2 linked regions of the Homo sapiens genome follow. The protein of the gene in region 1 purifies or fractionates together with the protein of each later gene. This does not show direct contact. Each region holds a gene or a part of one and is shown on either strand. Other genes may lie near its edges. The genes, in order: STK33 and FAR1.

Region 1 (4,185 bases):
ATCAAGAAGGGAGAAAGATCTTGAAGCAGCTATGTTAATGACAGTTTAAAATAAAATACAGACAATTTCCACTAGATATGCCTTGGCCAGCAGGTTCCCCCAAGGAAAGCACACTGAAGGTACTAAGAAAATACTGGCAGAACCACGTGGGGCAACACAGGCCAGTGCTATCTTTGACTCATTCGGAATCACAATAGTGTCTTCTAAACTAACTGCAAGAAGCACACGTACTATTTTTAGTTACCAAGTGGATTTAAATGCAACTAGTATATGCTCAGCTGGCCAGATGTGGGCCATTTTGGAGACCTGACAGTTCCATGGGGGGTTGGAATGGAACTAGGTTATGACTTTATGAAGGTAAAAGCAATTGCAAATTCTTTCTTTAGAATTTGCTTTGGAAGCAAAGGAAAGTAGCTATTCAACCAGTTTGACTTCAACTGGCAAAATTAGTTACCCAGGTGGAAAGGAGATGTCTATAAAGCTAAGAGAAATGAGGTATGGTCCCCTGTTTCTTGCTTCATGATCTTCCCCAAAGATGTGTGCCTACCATTGCAGCAGTAGAACAAACTTATAATTTGCATAAAGGCTTAGAGGACCTTATTATATTCACCTCTTGTTAACATAAAAATTAATGTGCTGAGTAACATCTGTTTTTTATTGATTTAATCAATACATTGGGAATTTAGCAGCAAGTTAATGGCAAGCAGTTACAAAATCTCCTATTTTTCTACATTTAAAATAAGCTGTCTTAAACAATCTATAGCAACCTAAAATCTCACGAACACATGTGAATGACTGAAGCACTTCTGCTGTAATACGTATGGCAAGTTTATTAGTAATTTTCTAACAAAGTCTTCTAGTGCAAAGTGCACATAATTATTTGGCACCTCCATTACTATATTTGGCCTCTTGTTTTCCCCTATAAATAGCTGTGCCTAAACATAAGAATTTGAAGTAAAAATGAGCAAGTGTGCCCACAGCCTTAAATTGAAGGTATCTGCCCCCCTAAAAAACCTTCGTGTACATCTTGAGTTGATTTCCACTGCAGCCCACTGCCAAGCCTACTGGTGGCTGTCCTTTAATGCCATGTGCAGCTTATGCTGCTTTGGAGATAAGCAGCTTCAATTTTAAGCTGGTGCAAACACATGGCGGGGCTCTGTGGAGCTAAAAGGCTACAAGCTCAGCATAGGGCTGTCTTCTTCCCCTCCTACCCCCTCATCAAAGTGCTAACAAGAGCAGCTTTGTTTTTGTACTGTCCAACACTGGAGGGAACCTTAGAGTTTCTTTTTGGTTCTGGACAGGGCGCCGGATTTAGCAGGGTACTTGGTTGCTGTTCCTTGGCTTGGAGTCACAGGGGTTTTCTCCATTTCTCCCTTGATTTCAGCTGGAAGGAGTTTGCTAGATGTGAAACTTGAACTGCACATATCAAAGTTGTCCTTACTGGTTGCAGGAAATTGCTTTTCATAAGCAGTAGACTGCAAATAAAAGGTCTTGATTAATTTTCAGACACAAAGCAATGCACATCAATTCAAAGATGCAAGGAACTACAAAGTTGTCCAGGATTTGCAAGTTGGAGCCCTCTCTAGATATAGGGTCCAAACTAGTCATATTGTAAAATTATTATTAAATGCCAAAAGATCCTTTTGCACCTTTAAGAAAACTGAATTGTTTCATGTTTGGTGTGGAGCAAACTCTACAGGCTCAATTTCGAAACCTCTGTCGTCCAAAATGTAAGTAAATGTCTGGTAACATTTGTGCAGGGAAGTCCGCTTAGACATAATTGTACTCACTTCATCTTTACAGATTTCTACACAAGCTCTGACATTTGTATGGATACCCTGATAAGTACAATATAATTATTCTTTCTAATCTGTGTATGAAGTGCTACATAAGGCCCACACTCACATCCCCACTATCTTCCCACATTAATTCCAGAGACTGGCTTCTAATCCCAGTCACACTACTCAGGCAGGCCTGTAGACCTCTTTGAGCCTCTCTATTCCTTGCCCTTAAGTGGAAGCAAATAATATTTGCACATTTGCCACAAGAGCTTACCATAAGAATGAAGAGAAAGGGTGGCCATGAAAGTACTATGTGAGCTTTAAAGTAGAAAACAAGCAGATGGAGTTTTAACAGGCAATTGTATTTTCTCAGGTCGCCTCATTCCACAGTAAAGGAAGAAGTGGTCTTGAATCCTGCTGTCATGAGGGAAGCAGGGTCTGTTTTGACGTTAGGCCCATTTTTAAAGTGATCACTTTTAATTAAGTGAAGCTGGAGCATAGAGTTCTAAAAGAGTAGAGATTGTCTCAGGAGACCCACAAAGCAGCACAGGGGCCCAGCCACTGGGGTAGAGATAGGGAAGCTCTGGTTTACAGAGAATGATCGAGGAAAGAGCTCACAGGTTTAATACTCTGGTTACCTGAAAGTCACAGCACACTTGGGTTAAAAATCAGGTTAACAATTTTCAAAGAGTGTGATAAGATGGTGTGTAACACAAAATAAATGCAGTGTTTCTTTGATCATTCAGGTTCTTGTGATGTAATGACCACGTTTAATATTCAGTAGTAGCACTTAATATATGTTTGCCTAGTGAATCCATGACTTTCCAGGGCTGCAATAAAACTCTGGGTCCTGTAAGACTTTTGGCACCTATATTTCAAGAAAGAAAATCCACCTGATGTTTGCTTGCTGAAGAAAGCCTTTAAAGTGTGCCTCTTCAGAACATCACTCGTGTCTGATTTTATAACCAGTATATGCTAATTCTTGAGCAGGTAACACTTAAAAATCATTTTGTACCTTAAAATTTTAATTTCTATAAAATTTGAAATGTAAAAAGGTCATTTTCTTTAGTTCTTTTCCCCCCTAAGCAAACTTCTGGGTTATTTCTGTGTGTTCTTTTAAGAGGTAGAAAATATTTAAAATTCTTTAGTATTCCCTCACATAGGTTGTATTTTTATCGAAAACTCCTTATGTTCAGTGATAAGGTGAGGATACAACACCCCTGATGTTAGAGCATCTGGCTGAGAACAAGTTGCTTTGTTTAGTACAGTGCTGGTCTCTAAGATATACACCCTATCTTTAAAATTTCAATTCATAAAATTTAATTACCTTTACATACAAATGCTATTAAAAGGTGAATCTAAGTGTAACCTTCTGTCTTTTGACATTTCTACTTGGATTTTGAGTTATCATCCAAGTTGTTGAGGAAGTAGTTTTCAACATGTCCACTACAACTAATATTCTATCGAGCAGGAATAAAGATTCATTTTCCTTTAATGTGCTTATATTCATATCTGGCTTAATGGTTCCATTCTTCTTTACTGCTTCATTTGTTAATGTAATTGAGTCATTATAGTAGTTTCAGGAGTTGCAGTCACCAGGAAGAAATACTCAGAAACAGTCTCTGTGAACAGAATTATTGATGTAGAATATTTTTCTTTTTCCCAAAAACGCTACAGATGCTGGTATTTTCTTCTTGGATACAATATCTTGAGATCATTATTAAAGTCTTCTGGCAAAGTGGAAGGAAAAAGAAAACTAAACAATGTTTAGTTGCTTTGGTGTAGAAATATGATATTTCTGTTTTATTTTGTAGTAAGATAAGAAAATGATTTTCCTCAGCCAAATTTTTTTGTAATTTTAGTTATTTATTTCTTAAATAGATAGTACATCCCCATGATTAAATATTCACAATGTTCAAAATCTCCTCCTTACCCCCTAGTTAACTGAGCTCTGCCCCCAAAGACAACCAATATTGTCAATTTATAGTGTACAATTTCAGAGAGATTTTATGCATCTTCAAGCAAATATTAGGTGGAACCAAATGGATGTGGTTGTCATTCCACTGTCATTTCCATTGGTTGCAGGTCAAAAACAGTCTAATAATGGCAATTTCCTATGGTTCAATCTAATTCATTGATGCGGTTTGGCTGTGTCCCCACCCAAGTCTTATCTTGAATTGTAGCTCCCATAATTCCGTGTTGTGGGAGGGACCCAGTGGGAGGTAATTGAATCACAGGGGCAGGTTTTTCCTGTGCTGTTCTCATGACAATGAATAAGTCTCACGAAATCTGATGGTTTTATAAAGGGCAGTTCCCCTGCACACATTCTCTTGCCTGCTGCCACCTAAGGCGTATCTTTGCTCCTCCTTTGCCTTCCACCATGATTGTGAGGCTTCCCCAGCCA
Region 2 (3,826 bases), 5.3 Mb from region 1:
AGACCCACTAAATTCTATCTAAGCCCTGCTCTTCATAAATGTCCCAACACAGCTAGGGAAATAATGCTCATGAGAAGCTCAAGGATTACTAAACCAGCCTTCAAAAGTAATGATTTTCCAAGAAAGGGCCAAGCCTCCTGATGGACTATAAATGATTTAGAAAGCATGACCTTCGTGGCCATGCCTGTAACCCCAGCACTTTGGGAGGCCGAGGCGGGTGGATCACAAGGTCAGGAGATCGAGACCGTCCTGGCTAACACGGTGAAACCCCGTCTCTACTAAAAATACAAAAAATTAGCTGGGCATGGTGGCAGGCATCTGTAGTCCCAGCTACTCAGGAGGCTGAGGCAGGAGAATGGCATGAACCCAGGAGGCGGAGCTTGCAGTGAGCGGAGATCGCACCACTGCACTCCCTCCTGGGCGACACAGCGAGACTCAGTCTCAAAAAAAAAGAAAACATGACCTTCCTTTAATCCATAAAGCTACTTATGAATAAACTATTAAGCTAGTTACCAAGAGTTGCAAAAATGAAGACTTTACTAGAATGTACCAAAAACTTCAATTTGTATTCCACTAGTATATCCAGTTGCTGCAACTGGCAATGCTGCAAGCTCCTACCACATATGCATACTCAAAACGTAGAAGTCCGTAACTTTCAAGAGGGGCACTTGCCATCAGTGAAACTGTGTTGTCTTTAGTTGGTCTTCGTTTTCAATTGTCATTATTCTTGCCTTTTAATTAAATTACCATTAGGTTTGGCTCATCGTTATCAATTTAGTTTTTGGTTATTTTATTATAACTGTAGAGAATATATTGATACAATTCCATCACTAGGATTTGAGGCCTGCAGTTTTCTAATTAGTCTAGACTTTATGACAAGCATATTTTTTGTGATTCAATTAGGAACCATCCATATAGCTCTTCCCAAAAAATGCTTATACCTTGACAAGTGTTATTATTCCATTAGAAAGTAGAAATTATTGAGCTAAAGAATGACTCAGCCAAAAGGCTAGGACTAAAAAAGCTTGACAGGCACTGTTCTAAGGGTCCTCACTCTGGCTATGATGTCGCTAATGTACGGGCAAGTCTTAGCCCCAGCCAGCCTTTCCACATGAACCAAATGTGGCAAAAGAACTCAGAATCGGGATCAGTCATGTAAGCAGTAACTTCTTTGAACCTGGATGTCAATGATCCTTCCAGTGTCTAGTTTTGAGTGGGGAAAAAACAGCTTTTAGGAATGTATTTAAATGACTAAATCCCATAACAAACTCTCTTCTCAAAAATCTTTTCCTAGTTTATTTTTAAAACTTTGCCAAGTTCATAGACACAGCTTGCAACTAAATGCTGTTAGGCAAAGATCATCCTAGAAAGGTATAAAAAAGCATGAGGAAAATGTTTTAAGAACTGTGGATTCTTAATATCTGTTTCCAACTGTGGAATGGAATTAAGCTCCTAAAACACGCCTACCCTAATAAATCTTGTAACTATGGGTTATTATGTTAAAGATGGAAGGAGTATATGATGGCAAAGTAAAAACATTATGGTATAACATTTCAGGGAATTCTTAGCCAATTTACCAATAATCTAGTTACCATGCTAAAGTTAATATACTTCCTTCTCCAAATACTGAGATCCAGAATGAAAAGACAAACAAAATAAATAAGCACAATAGACTTACCAAAAATCAGGTAATGAGAAACAACGCTGTTGGGATTGCCATAACCAACAGACCTTAGGCAAGTCAACCTCTCTGATCACTCTTTAAATTTATTGAAGGAGAGGCCAGATCACTGATTGTTAAAATCTCTTCTGGCTTTCACAGTCTGTATTTTTACTACTATGTATTGGAATAAGTTGTTTCCTACTAGTAGATTAGGTACTTGAAAAATTATTAACTCCAACAGGTCACAAGGGTATCACTTTAAAGCAATTCACCTAATATTCACTGAACTTCGAACAGTCTGTGCACAGCTCTGTGGGGTCAAATGTCCCATTACCAGCTAATTCACCTGTTCCTATCTCCTGAGAATTCTGCTTATGCTCATAATCATTATCATAATTACATTTTAATTACAATCCACAAGTTTTTAAAACCACCTATTTCTAAGAAACTCATTTAGGGCCATTCCTCAAACTAAGTGAACTATGAGCACTTGTATCTCAGGGCTCCACTGAGAATCAATCCTTTGTCAGCCAAAAACAGTTTCTAAGCTCCTGCATTACTTCTGGTTGTTTCAACACAGATGTGAACCTCAAAATACTTTAGCAGATCCTTTCCTCCACAGATCTTAACTGCCTAAGGACACAGTAAGTCAAAGTTTTTACTTCTGGGGGAAAAAAAGGTATTTATGCATTTATTCATTCATATGTCATATATTCTACTTCCTGTTAATCCAGGATGGACAGGAGCCATAAATAAAGTACCACATGCTTATTCCAAAATCTTTAGTGAAATAATTCCTATTTATTAAACTGGCTACAGCTTGTTTTTCCCCAAGAATTCAATTAAGAATGTCTAATTTTTTAATTAGGCATTTGCAATAATAAGCTTTATCATTTTATCACTCTTAATAATTAAAAACACTTGTTTGTAAAAGGCAAGCAGAACACACAGAAAGATAATTGAGTTGAATTTTAGCAGTATGCTTTCTGCCTACACATTAAAGAATAAATTATTAAGACAGAATCCACAGACCCCCCAAGGATATTTGAACGTACATTTTTCTGATGAGATAGCACAACACTTTGAGGAGATGCTCAGAGAAGTTCATGACCTTTGACAAGCAATTTCTGCATTAGGGAATATACTTTAAGATTTTATTCTCAGAATACTTCAAAATAAGCTATAATGGTAACAATTCCCTAAATTCAAGGATTTCTCATGAATTATGCCAACATTTCTGGAAAAAATTTCATGTAAGACAAGAATGATCTAAACTAGATATTTCAAAATAATCTTAAAATTGTCAAATAGTTAACATTTAAGTTAAACACACACACACAACTGCACACCAAAGCTGATGGCACAAACCCACAAACATTCTAACAAGAATGGATCCATTAATACATGTGGTATTAAGATATTTAGAAGGCTTTTTAACAGAACGTGCCAAAAAATTAACCACGAACAGTGATATATTCACAAAGTAGTGTGTCCTAATTTCTGCTACAGCAACCGGCTTTGTTCAAGTTCTGATATAACATCTACAGTATGCCAATTACATGTTGTAGTAGTCTAAAAGATAAAGATAGAGAGATACAGATTTAGATATAACTTATTCTATAGCGCCAAAATTAGATTTCCTAACCGCACGCTTTATCCATGTGATTACCCTCACCTTATCCCTGAATGTTCTTTCTCTCTATCGCCACTTGTTTAAGTTCTACTTTCATTCTAAAATAATGTCAGTTCCCACTTAAGAGTCTCTACCACCAATTTTGGCACATGATCCAGTGTTGCTACATTCTGTTTCACATATGTACAGTCTCTTCAATTATATTATCCCTGCCCTACAGTAGCTTACTATATCTAATTTCTCGTGCCCAGAACAGTATAATGCTCAAGTCTCAAAATATATTTATATGAACAAATTTGCACCTCACTTGGATTAACATGTCTATTATTATACTTATCACACTGCATGGTAACAACTGGTTAAAAAAAAAAAAAAAGTCTAGGGATTTGCTTCAAAATAAAGAAGGAAGTGGATGGAGGTATGGATGAAGCAAGACTGACCACAAGTTAGTAACTCTTAAAGTTGGTGATGTGTGTATTATTGCTGTCAATTTTCCATAATACAAAGTTTAGAAGCTTGCCTCTCCTACT

What was found.
Region 2: the proteins of STK33 (region 1) and FAR1 purify together in Homo sapiens (affinity purification with mass spectrometry; one large-scale study listed by BioGRID and IntAct). This does not show direct contact.

Annotation. Positions count from the first base shown.
Region 1 is NC_000011.10:8,391,236-8,395,420, forward strand, and holds the end of STK33 (serine/threonine-protein kinase 33), read right to left. Parts: intron 1,476-4,185; coding exon 1,275-1,475; 3' UTR 635-1,274; downstream 1-634. UniProt on the Homo sapiens protein: Serine/threonine protein kinase required for spermatid differentiation and male fertility. Promotes sperm flagella assembly during spermatogenesis by mediating phosphorylation of fibrous sheath proteins AKAP3 and AKAP4.
Region 2 is NC_000011.10:13,674,900-13,678,725, reverse strand, and holds part of FAR1 (fatty acyl-CoA reductase 1), read right to left. Parts: intron 1-3,826. UniProt on the Homo sapiens protein: Catalyzes the reduction of saturated and unsaturated C16 or C18 fatty acyl-CoA to fatty alcohols. It plays an essential role in the production of ether lipids/plasmalogens which synthesis requires fatty alcohols.